Linked DNA regions of Homo sapiens: regions 1, 3 and 4 are each reported to be linked to region 2. The links are microRNA targets in miRTarBase. Many come from high-throughput screens and were not tested one by one. Region 2 holds a microRNA gene; each other region holds the end of a gene's coding sequence.
Evidence for each region. Region 2 holds the annotated microRNA hsa-miR-5189-5p (UCUGGGCACAGGCGGAUGGACAGG, at 1,695-1,718, shown strand). A microRNA usually pairs through its seed, bases 2 to 8, with sites in the 3' UTR of a target mRNA and lowers its output. Matches are read on the target gene's strand: a 7mer-m8 pairs with bases 2 to 8, a 7mer-A1 pairs with bases 2 to 7 and ends in A, and an 8mer does both.

Region 1 (3,072 bases), not on the chromosome of region 2:
TGAGGGCATTGGGGATGGTGACTTGACGAAGTACCAGTCAACTCTACCCTGGAGATTCATCACAGAGGAATCTCCCATGGCCACCCTGTCCTATGAGCTCACCAGCTCCACCCTGGAGATATTAACAGTGAACACTGTCAAGCAGACACCTAACCACATCCCCTCAACGATCATGGCAACCACCCAGCCTCCAGTAGAAACCACTGTTCCTGAGATCCAGGATAGCTTCCCATACCTGCTGTCTGAAGACTTCTTTGGACAGGAAGGCCCCGGGCCAGGTGCAAGTGAGGAGCTTCATCCCACCTTGGAGTCGTGTGTGGGGGACGGATGTCCTGGCCTCAGCAGAGGCCCTGTGATCGCCACCATTGTCACCGTCCTGTGCCTACTGCTGCTCCTGGCAGGTGTGGGGATGGTGTGGGGCTACCGCAAGTGCCAGCACAAGAGCTCTGTGTACAAGCTGAATGTTGGCCAGCGGCAGGCTCGGCACTACCACCAGCAGATCGAGATGGAGAAGGTCTAGGCACCTTTGGAGTGGGTTCTCCCAAAGCCACTTGGGAGGAAAATAACTGTGACACATCACACGATAATTCACTAGAGCATGACGCAGGTGGACTGAGGCTCATCATTTTTTCCTCAGCCCTTTGTTTTATAGGCTGAGAAGTGTCTCTGGAGCACCTGGGAGGGCAGGGAGGCTTTGGTGACATCATCACTCATGTCAATGTCTCCTCCACCATCTGCCCTGGAATTGACTACACTAATCCCAGACCTGTGCTTGGGCCCTGTTTCCAGTGTGAGGTCAAAAATCGCCTCTTCCTTCATCACAGTATTATCTTTTTTTTTTTGAGACAGAGTCTCATGCTGTTGCCCAGGCTGGAGTGCAGTGTCCCGATCTGAGCTCACTGCAACCTCTGCCTCCCAAGTTCAAGCAATTCTCCTGCCTCAGCCTCCCAAGTAGGTGGGATTACAGGCATGCACCACCATGCCCAGCTAATTTTTTTATATTTTTAGTAGAGATGGAGTTTCACCATGTTGGCCAGGCTGGTCAAGAACTCCTGACCTCAAGTGATCTGCCCTCCTTAGCCTCCCAAAGTGCTAGGATTCCAGGTGTGAGCCACATCACAGTATTACCTTTTTGAAGAAAGAAAATCACCAGCTTCATGCCCTGAAATTTTATAAATAGTCATGATAAACCAAGTGTATGAGAGCAGTATTATCTAGGACATGGATATTGAATTATTGGGAGAGGAATATGGAAGAATAATGGGTTGTTTCCTTTTAATGTTGTGATGTTGCTGAGGGCAGATGAACCAAGAGCCAGGACACAGTCTAGAAGCTTTGAGGTTTCTTTTTTCATTGTTTCTTGAAATTAGAATTTAAGACTGACATTTTGTTGGGGGAGTTGAGGAGTGAAGAAACACACATCCCCCTCTGTTCCCTCCATTCTGTGGGACAGTCTGTCATTTATTTTATTTTATTTTCAATATTTCATGGTTAAGGATTTGCCATTATTTTTTAAAAACAAAGTTAGCTTTGTACCAGTAAGTACCATTTCCTCTCAGAAGCAGTGGCCTAGTTGTCCTTGACCAGTCTGTGCCTAGGAATGTCTTGGAATTTTTGCCAGGACTAACAAAACTCAGTCCTTGGTTTCCTCTCTCAGGATTAACCATTTCTCTGAACTCCAGTAAGAGAGAATGACACGGGAGAAAAAAAAAAGAAATGTTTTCAGAGGGCCGAACACCAGGTTATCAAGTATGGGCACATACTTGATGGAGAAGCAGAAGAATCTGTGAAAGAATATGAAATGATCTGTGCTGATCTGTTCTCTAGTGTGGAAACTGGGAGCTCTGTGGAAACAGAATCCATCCTGTCTGTTGGGTAACCCATTTCGTAGCATCTAAATCATCTTAGGGTGGCTCAGCGAGGATGGTTTATGGCAGTGGTTCTCAAAGTGTGGTCCTCAGACCAGTAGCATCAGCGTCACCTGGGAATTTGTTGGAGATGCAAATTCTCTAGTCCCACCCTGGACTCAGGAAACAGGAACCCTGGGAGTAGGGCCCAGTTCTGTTTTTAACAAGCCCTCCAGGTGATTTTGATATGCACTCAAGTTTGAGAGCCTGTTGGTTTATAATAATCTCAAATGTGAACTTCGAGGCCAGCTGAAGCCCTAAAGGCACAGATGAGTATGTGGTGTGTGTTGTGTGGAAGTCAGGCATGGCTGTGTGCAGCTGAGGTGGCATTTGAAGCTGCCTAAATGCCACCTGCAATAGTCTCCTGTATGTTGGCACAGAAATGAAACATGTTATATTTTTCTAATATGAATCACCTTCTTAGAAATAGTTATCAGTGGTAAAAAGTGATGAATGCAACACATTTATTTTGAGACACCATAGCAGTCTAAGTGTTTTTGTGTGGTAGAGGGAAATCCTGATCTTTTTTATGATTGAAAAATTGTTGGTGGTGTTTTACCTAAGGAAAAAAAACATTCGCAACATGTTTTCTACCCTGCCACCTCTTTTCAGCAAGCTTTGGAAAAGTAATAGGCGAAGTAGCTGTAAAGAGAGGCAGCATAATCAAAGATCTTATTCCCCATAGTTGGGTAAAATAAAGCCTGAAGGTACCAACTAGAATACCTGTGCATCAGACGAAGTCAAGAACAATAGGAATAAAATGCTTTCTGCATGTAGCCAAAGCAAAACATAATAGAATAAAAGCCAGAGACTGTATATATTTATAAATTAGATCCTAATCTACTGCAAGATAACTTTTCTATTTTTAACTATATAAAATAACCTCTGTCTCAGCATTGGGACTGTGTTAGCAACTATTATTGTGGAATAACCCAGAACATTGGATTTATACCAACAAATAGGCAATATTAATACAGTGTATTAATAAATTTATTACAAATTATTAATACAGTGTATTAATAAATTTATTACAAATTATTAATACAGGTAAATGTTTTATTTGTAGACATGGACTGTGAAATAAACCCAACACATCAGTTTTTAAGTTCTTATTGGTGTGGTATCCTCTAAATTAATGTTATAGAATCTAAAAATTCATGTTGAA
Region 2 (3,072 bases):
GCCGCAGCAAACAAGCAGGGGGTACAGCATCTGTCCCCATGGCCCTGGTTCTCACACACATCCCAGAGTCTCAGGTCTCAGTTTCCTCATCTGTCAAATAGGGCCGACACCGCTAAGCCTGCCCTGCAGGCCATGGCCAACCCCCCTGAGGTCTCCCCACCCCTCCCAGCGGTGCCCACCCAGGGCTTCTCGAGGAAGGAGCTCAGCACCCGCCCCAGTGACACTTCACTTCTCTGGGCTTTGCTGCCTTTTCCTATAAAATGGGGTGCCAGTCGCCCTCTCAGAGTCCTTTCAAGGAGCTGATGGTGTAGACCGCGAGACCTGCCTTGCAGGGCACATGCGCAGCTGCTCCTGTCATGCTGGGACCTCCGGACCCCGGGCCTCGCAGCTGCCTTGGATCCCCTCCCTCCTCCAGTCACGGGCTCTGGGCTGGCTGCTGGGCGTGTTGGGCACAGCGGGCCCTAAGCTGACCCGTGCCCTTTGTGGCTGGGACCTGAGATGGGGAGGCCCCCACCCCCTAGTTCCATGGCTTTGGGAGGTGGGGGTGGGGTGTTTTCTACTCTACCACCCTACAACGAAAAAGAAGAAAAGAGAACTTGATAAAAAAGGGCGATGCGTGCTGTGCGGTGGAGGAGGTGCTATCGCCGTTATCTATCTGCTTGCTCGAGCTGAGCGGCCCCCCTTCCCCTTATCTCACCCCACCCTAATGCCAGGAACAAAAGTGAGAACACACTCTCAACCCGCACACCCGCGAGCCCCCCACCGCCCCTCACACACCCGCGAGCCCACCGCCCCTCACGCCCCCGCGAGCCCACCGCCCCGACCCACCCGCGAGCCCACCGGCCGCTGACGCACCTGCGAGCCCACCGCCCCTCACGCACCCGCGAGCCCACTGCCCCTGACCCACCCGCGAGCCCACAGGCCCTGACGCACCCGCGAGCCCACCGCCCCTCAAGCACCCGCGAGCCCACCGCCCCTCAAGCACCCGCGAGCCCACCGTCCCGACGCACCCGCGAGCCCACTGCCTGCGGCGCACAGAGCCACCAGATCTAGAGGGAGAGCTGAGCACTCGGGGTGCTCTGAAAGTCATCATCATCATCATTTTGCAAAGAAAGCCCCCAAATAGCCCTCCCTGAAACAAGGCAGCCAAAAATAAGAAGTCGCTCTCAACAGGCCCCCACAGGAGAAAAGAGGCCGGCCTTGGAGAGGGGTTGGGACTTGGGGCCAGGTCCCAGCTGTGCCGGCCTCTTGGCTGTACGACCTTGGACCAGTATCTTTCCCACTCAGAGTCATCCCTGAATGGATGTCAGGGAGCCTTCGAGGAAAGGGGAGAGCCTGCACTGTAACTGAAGCCCCCCACCAGCCCCATGCAGCTTTCTGACCCTAGACTTGGGGCTGGGACCAGTCACCCAGAATCTGATACCCCCAGGGCCCCGCCCCCCAGAGCCCCACCCCCATGGCCAGGGCACCACTGTCCTAACCAGCCTGTTGGCAGCCAATGGAAATGGGGTATGCAAATGAGCAGGGGTGAGGCCCAGGGATTGGCTGAGCTGCTGTGTGGGGGCAGGGCCTCCTCCAGGGGCTGCCCTTGACCTGGGGGAGTAGTTCCCATCCTGGACCCTGCCCCAGGACGGGAGACCTCTGCCACCACCACCACCGGCTCTGGAAGGGCCCGCCTTTTAGGGGCCTCGCTGTCTGGGCACAGGCGGATGGACAGGCTGGCCTCTGGATGACCTGCCAACCGTCAGAGCCCAGACCCACGTGGCCTCAGTTGGGGACCAGGACCCAGGAGTTCCCGAGAGGAGTGCAGCCAGCAGCCACTCCCAGATGGGAACAGCGAGTTTCACAACCCGGCAGGGACGGCCCTGGGGCCAGCCAGCCTCCCACCCCCATGTCTGGGCCCACTCCAGACCCTCCTGCAGGCTGCCCCCCACCGCTCCACCCTCTCCCCGCGCTGACTTCCATCCGGAACCTCATTCTGCCAAGCTTCTGAAGTGCCGGCCGGGCCAGGGACGTGGCACCATCTTAATGAATGACAGTCCCAACCCCTTTGCCCACCCTCAGCCTCCCCATCTGTAAAACCGGAAGGCGGTCTAGTAGGTCTGCCTCCCAGGATGGTTTCTGGGCTCTTCAGCAAGCCCCTTGCCGGCCTGGGCCTCAGTTTCCCCTTCCACACCATGAGGCTGAGGTGGCAGGTTCTCTGGGGGTCCTCCTGTCTGTGGCTGTGGCATAGCCTGGAAACCTGGGGTCTTCCAGATTTCCCATTGTCAGAAATTCATGTGCCAGGAGACCATGTCTACAGGGGGCTTAGGACACCTTAGGGGGCATGCACCTGTGTTCTGCATCCACCCACACTGCACAGTGGGTCTTGCTGGCAAGACCAGGATGAGGCAGGCTCCGCCGGCCTGAGACCTGGCTGGAGGCCCTGTCAGCTCCCACGGCACCTGAAAATCAGCCACAGGTGTGGGTGTTTGTCAAAAATGTGTAAGTGGAAAATAGTGGCGGGGCGAGGAGAGAAAGAGTCTGGGCTGAGATCTAAGGAGAGGAAGTAGGGAGGGGCCGTCCGACCAGAACCAGACATCACCTTGGCCAGGGCCCCACCCCCTAACGTGGGGTGCAGTGCCTCTCACGTGGTGAGGGTCAGAGGTGCGTGCCCAGCCCAGAGGATCTCCCCACGCAGCCCTCCCAGTCTGCAGAGGGGTCTCCACACATGCAGGCAGCTCTGTCCTCTCCCAGGACAGCTTGGGGCATACAGTAGGTGCTCCATAAATACTCCCCAGCTGATTTCTGGATCTGCTCCCTGTGCCTGGCTGTGTCCCCAGAGGCAAAGCAAGCAGAAGGAAAAAGGAAACGGAGAAAAAGCCAGGGCCTCCAGAGCCAGCATTGTCCTGGGCAAAGGCCCCTCCCGTGTAGGAGCATCGCCTGTGGAGAGCCACGGTCCTTGTCCCTGTGCTGGGGCTGTGACTCACTCCTGCGGGGTCCTTGCTGTCAGGGCCACCCCACCTGTCCTGGGGACAGGGCTGCTGGACGGGTTGGGGCGGGCAGCCTCTGGATGCCCACGGGTGTCCCCTG
Region 3 (3,071 bases), not on the chromosome of region 2:
TCCTTTTGCCTCTTGGAAAGAGACTTGAGTAATGGTCATGTTGACTTTAACACTTTTTCTATGTCTGTTCACTGGGTGGTGTGTGCTATTTTACAATTGAAGGTTTTGCTTGTGAACATATGAGTTATACTCCACCAAAAAGTTCTGTTTTGCTCCTTGTATATACCATAAAAACTGTGTGCTTTTAACGAATATTGCTGTATTTTTTCCTTAGGTAAAACTGTGTTGTAATTGATGACTTAGTTTTCAGAAGTCAGCTCCTTCCATTTAAGTTTCTATCTTCTTGAAACTTACTTTAGGTTTGTTTTTCATTCTCACTTTAGTGTTTACCTGAGTTTTGCTCTTTGCATAACCACACACATATTATAAAGGGTCTTCATGTGGAAGCTTTTTACTTAAGTCTGATGAAATAGAAAACTGTGTACATTTAAAAATATGCATTTAAAATTGTTTTTTATTGTTTTGTTGGGCAGTATGAAATATACAGTCAAGGCAGATTCGTACAGACTTGTAAAGTCATCTCAGGAATCTTTTATGCTTAAAGTTTCCTCAGCCCCATTTATATTCACTACTATCATTCACTCTTTACCACTAATATCTTCCCTGCTGTCTAATCACTAATATCTTCCCTCCTGTCTAATCACTAATGTCTTCCTTCCTGTCTAATCACTGAGTTAAGGGAAAAATAGTCATTTACTTACAGGAATATAATGGGTATTAATAACAAAATTCCATTTCCCCATTAAAAGCTATGTCTAAGAAAAAAAATAGTGGAGGCATTATTTAAAACTTCTAAATGGCCTGGTGAGTATAGTCTTAGTTTAGCTTCCTTACTTTTTTGTATGCCCAACCTGAAATGATGTCATCCCGTATCATCACAGTATGTTGCTTTTTCAGTACGAAGTTAATGGGCTTTCCTGCTGTTTAACTGCTTTGAGATTTTAAAAATTCATTCAGCCACATAGTATTCAAAGCATGGAGCTGGGTGCCACAAAGACTTGGGCCTGGCATCACCCAGAAGCTCAAGGAAGGCAGAGGATGAGCACCTTCTCCATTATACTTGGTACTTGATTGTTCATGGAATTAAAATTTAAATATAAATGAACTATATATAAATGCCATAATAAAAATATACGAAAGTGCTTTGGAAGTACAGATAAGAAAAGTGACACTTCTAGCCTGAGAATCAGGGAAGAATGGTCCTTCAAGGACTTGAAAAAATGAACAGAATTAAGGCAAAGACGTTAGGACTAGCTTTTCAGTCTGAGGCAGAGTGGAGATATAGCAGAGCAAGAGGTTTGGTTGGTGCCTATATCATAAGCAAGGTTTAATGGGAAGTGTGATTAGCAAGTTAGCCTTGAATGCCAGGCTAAAGATTTATGATTTATTATAGAAACAGTGGAGTTAGTGGAAATGTTTTAGTGATGTATCCTAACTGATATCTAAGGAAGATTAATCTGGCAGGACTTGTGAAGTGGTGGAGGGTAGGCTGGCAGTGGAGAGAATGGTTAGAAGGTAGAGGTGGCCTGGACGTAGTGGCTCATGCCTGTAGTCCCAGCACTTTGGGAGGCTGAGATAGGAAGATCACTCGAGACCAGGAGTTCAAGACCAGCCTGGGCAACAGTGAGACTCCATCTCTGCAAAAAATAAAAAATAAAATTAGTTGGGTATGGTGGTGCATGCCTGTAGTCTTAGTTACTTGGGAGGCTGAGACAGCAGGATTGCTTGAGCCCAGGAGTTGGAGGCTGAAGTGAGCTATGATCAGGCTACTGCACTTCAGCCAGGTGACGAAGCGAGACACTGTCTCTATTAAAAAAAGGAAAAAAGAAGGCAAAGGTGAAACTAGATAAAAGACCCTGGTGAGGGACCCTACAAAGATAGAATCAGTTGATGAGGCAGCCACCAGCATGAGAGTCAAAAGAGACCAAAGAATAAAAAATGATGTCAAATGTCAAGGATGGCAATACCACTCACAGAAATAGGGAAGATGGTGATTTAAAGAGCTTGAAGTAGCAATAAGGCAAATGGAAATGTCATTTTCCATAGAGTTGTGATATCTTTTCTCCTGCATTAACATTTTTAAAATACTGATAAAGTGTTTTTAAAAATTACTAATGCTGGCTGGCTCAGTGGCTCACGCCTGTAATCCAGCACTTTGGGAGGCTGAGGCCGGAAGATCACTTGAGGTCAGGAGTTCAAGACCAGCCTGGTCAACATGGTGAAACCCCGTCTCTACTAAAAATACAAGTATTTTTAGTAGCTGGGCATGGTGGTGTAATCCCAGCTACTTGGGAGGCTGACCTGGGAGGCAGAGGTTGCAATGAGCCAAGATAGTGCCACTGCACGCCAGTCTGGGTGATAAAGTGAGACTCAGTCTCAAAAACAAACAAACAAACTACTAATGCTTTTGTAATGTTTGACCTTTGAAGCATATTTCTTAGGAGCTCGGAAATGGAGCTCCTTGCACTATGCTTATGTTGTTCTTGAAAACAGACGTTCTCTGTGATGGCTGTCCTTGTTCTCTAAGATCATTTCACTATTTTGTAAGGTAAGCAGTGGAGTGATTTCTGGTTTTTGACATGAGAAAATAAAGGAATGGATCTAAGCAACTATTAAGACTACCCAGGCACAAAGCTATGAGATATATAAAATATAAGCCATCAGTGTTGTTGTAGTAGTAGTTAGCATGGTGAATAATAAGAATAATATTGCTTGGAGCAAAGCAAATGGTAAAAATCACAAGGATGAGGAGACTCGCCTTAACATACCACAACCATCTATGATCGTATGCATTAAGTGTCCGGATGATGGCTGCATAGCAGTAGATGATAAGCACAAATGGAATTAAGAATCCAAAGAATGCCAAGGAGATGAAGTAATAGAGTTGGAAGGGAGATGAGGACTCGCAAGTGTTGTGAACATCATGGCAGGTGGTGATGTCTGGCTGAACAAGATAATATTCCTGCTTCAGTATGAAAAATGGCAGCATATATAAGAAAACTGTTGCCCACACCAGTCCACATGTTACCAAGGCATAGGTGTGCTTGGGCAGGCCCCGGTAGGTGAAAGGA
Region 4 (3,066 bases), not on the chromosome of region 2:
CAGGTACAGGTGCCAGTTTGTGACGGATGAAAGCACCGACAGCCCACGCGTCTTCATCATGGAGGCCTGTGCCCCAGACTGTGCCCAGCACAACAGCTGGGCGGCAAGGGTGGGCCAGGGTCGAGCAAATGACACGTTCCCTTTGGCTAAGGAAGACACCCCAGAAGCAAAATGCTCCATGCGACAGCCAGGCATTCAGGCTACAAGCTCGGTGGCGGGGAGGCAGCCGGGAGCCTTCTCAGAGGAGAAGGGTCCCGTGATCATTCCACAGATGCTTTCAGAGCTCTGGGCTCAGGGTAACCGACCAATTATGGTGCTGCCAGAGGGCCTGCATTTACTATACACACGTCACAAAATCAGGCTTCCCCGGGAGGAGCCATCGGACTCTGTGCAGAGGGCCCATGTGACAATATAAAAGTGATTTCTGGCCGGGCGCGGTGGCTAACGCCTAATCTCAGCACTTTGGGGAGGCCGAGGCAGGTGGACGATGAGGTCAGGAGTTCGAGAGCAGCCTGGCCAGTATGGTGAAACCCCGTCTCTACTAAAATAAAATACAAAAAAGATTTAGCCAGGCGTGGTGGCACACGTCTGTAGTCCCAGCTACTGGGGAGGCTGAGGCAGGAAAATCGCTTGAACCCGGGAGATGGAGATTGCCATGAGCCGAGATCACGCCACTGCACTCCAGCCTGGGCAAAAGTGATTTCTATGCAAAGCAGGTTTTAAGAATATTGCACCAAGGAAGCCATAGCTTTGCACAACTCCATGGAATAACCAAGTTTTTTAGTGAACCACAAGAGGGAGCTGTTGGTTAACTTTGGAGAGCCCACTGGCTGATGGGTGAGGAACTGAAGGAAGCGCTCTGATGATTAAGTTTTGGCCACTGGGAAGGAGTCACTTGTTTCTAAGAGAGTCTATTTCAGGTTTTAAGAAATGAAAAGTCACAAATGACCCTGAAAATTCCTGAGATAGGGGCTCCCAGAGCCAGAGGGCTCACTAGGTTCTGGGGATTTTTGGACGTATCCACGGCTATGTCCTGGATTAGACCAGGGCAAGGCACCCTTTGACTCAGCACAGTGGGTGATAACCCCATGGACACGGGGCAGTGTCTGGAGACATCCTTGGTTGCCACGAATGGTGGGAGTGCTGGCATCTGGTGGGCAGAGACCAGGGACACTGGAACATCCTGTGATGCTCTGGGCAGCTCCTTCCCCTGAAGAATGATCTCGCCCGGTATGTTCACAGTGCTGAGGGTGACAGTCCCTAACCTCCATCAAAGGAGCAATTTTCCCTCCAGGTGGGAACGGCCTCTCCTGGCTGTGGTGAGAGGGGCTGGTCTGGAAGTTTCTCTCCAGGTGGGAAAGGCCTCTCCTGGCTGTGGTGTGAAGGGCTGGTCTGGAAGCTTCTCTCCAGGCAGGAACGGCCTCTCCTGGCTGTGGTGTGTGGGGCTGGTCTGAAAGTTTCTCTCCAGGCAGAAAAGGTCTCTCCTGGCTGTGGTGTGAGGAGCTGGCCTGAAGCTTCTCTCCAGGCGGGAAAGGCCTCTCCTGGCTGTGGTGTGAGGGGCTGGTCTGGAAGTTCCTCTCCCGGTGGGAAAGGCCTCTTCTGGCTGTAGTGAGAGGGCTGGTCTGGAAGTTTCTCTCCCGGTGGGAAAGGCCTCTCCTGGCTGTGGTGTGAGGGGCTGGTCTGGAAGTTTCTCTCCCGGTGGGAAAGGCCTCTCCTGGCGGTGGTGTGAGGGGCTGGTCTGGAAGTTTCTCTCCAGGTGAGAAAGGCCCCTCTTGGCTGTGGTATGAGGGGCTGGTCTGGAAGTTTCTCTCCAGGTGGGAAAGGCCTCTCCTGGCTGTGGTGTGAGGGGCTGGTCTGGAAGCTTCTCTCCAGGTGGTAAAGGCCTCTCCTGGCTGTGGTGAGAGGGGCTGGTCTGGAAGTTTCTGTCCAGGTGGGAAAGGCCTCTCCTGGCTGTGGTGTGTGAGAGGCTTGTCCGGAAGTTTCCAGGCGGGAAAGGCCTCTCCTGGCTGTAGTGAGAGGGCTGGTCTGGAAGTTTCTCTCCAGGCTGGAAAGGCTTCTCTTGGCTGTGGTGTGAGGGGCTGGTCTGGAAGTTTCTCTACCGGTGGGAAAGGCCTCTCCTGGCTGTGGTGAGAGGGGATGGTCTGGAAATTTCTCTCCAGGTGAGAAAGGCCCCTCTTGGCTGTGGTATGAGGGGCTGGTCTGGAAGTTTCTCTCCAGGTGGGAAAGGCCCCTCCTGGCTGTGGTGTGTGAAGGGCTGGTCTGGAAGCTTCTCTCCAGATGGGAAAGGCCTCTTCTGGGTGTGGTGAGAGGGCTGGTCTGGAAGTTTCTGGATGCTCTCAGCATCTATCAGGGAGAGCAGGTGCCCCCATGACATCTCTCTGCACGGGCAGGGTGTCTACTGTCCGGAAGAAGCCCCTCCCCAGGTGAAGTGAGGGTTGGGCCACACCCTCTTCCTCATATTCTAAGTGTCCTCAGAGAATACATTTCTGCAGGTGTCATTATGTATCTGTGTGTCCTCAGCCCCAGATGGGCCCAGACAGGCCTTTGGGCCAGGGATTCCAGAGTCTGCATCAGGGGTCCTTGGCCTGAGGCTCGGACCCCTCAAGACGTCCCTCCTTGGGGAGAAAGATCCATGAGGCATCGAGCCAGGGCTCCAAGCCAAATGAAATGCAAACTCACAGAGACGTGTTTCCAAGACGGGAATGCCTAATTTTCTCAGGTGATACTCATTTATGCTTTTAGGGCACATTTCTATTCTTTCTCTGTCCCTCTCAGAAGAGCCTAGAGATGCCGCTGTCCTCTCCGTCCTCGCTGCCTCTCAGCACTGCAGGAGGGAAGGTGGAATTCACACCCAGACCCAGGGCTTCAGGTCTTGTCCCACCGACTGGTCTTAAACTACAAGTTGCTTCTTCTCTTTAGCATCTTCTTTGAGTTCCCACTGTCCCCAGCTTCACTTTCTTGCTGACTCAGCCTTTTGCTGCTTAAAACAGAGAAGAAAGGCAGCCAGTTAGAACGCTGACTCCATGCCCATCATGATGCCATAACTTACCCAATCGGATTAAATGA

Region 1: the mRNA of SUSD5 is a reported target of hsa-miR-5189-5p. Seed matches in the 3' UTR shown: 7mer-m8 at 863-869 and 7mer-m8 at 981-987.
Region 3: miRTarBase lists F2RL2 as a target of hsa-miR-5189-5p. Seed matches in the 3' UTR shown: 7mer-m8 at 2,261-2,267 and 7mer-m8 at 1,614-1,620.
Region 4: the mRNA of EVC is a reported target of hsa-miR-5189-5p. Seed matches in the 3' UTR shown: 8mer at 1,193-1,200, 7mer-m8 at 687-693 and 7mer-A1 at 285-291.

The regions. Positions count from the first base shown.
Region 1 is chr3:33,150,190-33,153,261 of GRCh38, reverse strand. SUSD5 (sushi domain containing 5) reads left to right here. Exons shown (of 5, transcript NM_015551.2): 5 at 1-3,072. The coding sequence ends at 520. Among named protein-coding and RNA genes, the nearest start is that of CRTAP, 38 kb to the right of the region's middle. RefSeq lists an enhancer at 1-447.
Region 2 is chr16:88,467,249-88,470,320 of GRCh38, forward strand. It overlaps MIR5189 (microRNA 5189), which reads left to right and starts at 1,670; the gene lies at 1,670-1,783. All of the region lies in intron 1 of ZFPM1 (zinc finger protein, FOG family member 1), which reads left to right.
Region 3 is chr5:76,615,046-76,618,116 of GRCh38, forward strand. It overlaps F2RL2 (coagulation factor II thrombin receptor like 2), which reads right to left. Exons shown (of 2, transcript NM_004101.4): 2 at 437-3,071. The coding sequence ends at 2,537. All of the region lies in intron 13 of IQGAP2 (IQ motif containing GTPase activating protein 2), which reads left to right. Among named protein-coding and RNA genes, the nearest start is that of F2RL2, 6.8 kb to the right of the region's middle.
Region 4 is chr4:5,810,867-5,813,932 of GRCh38, reverse strand. It overlaps EVC (EvC ciliary complex subunit 1), which reads right to left. Exons shown (of 21, transcript NM_153717.3): 21 at 1-2,980. The coding sequence ends at 2,896. Among named protein-coding and RNA genes, the nearest start is that of CRMP1, 81 kb to the left of the region's middle. RefSeq lists an enhancer at 902-951.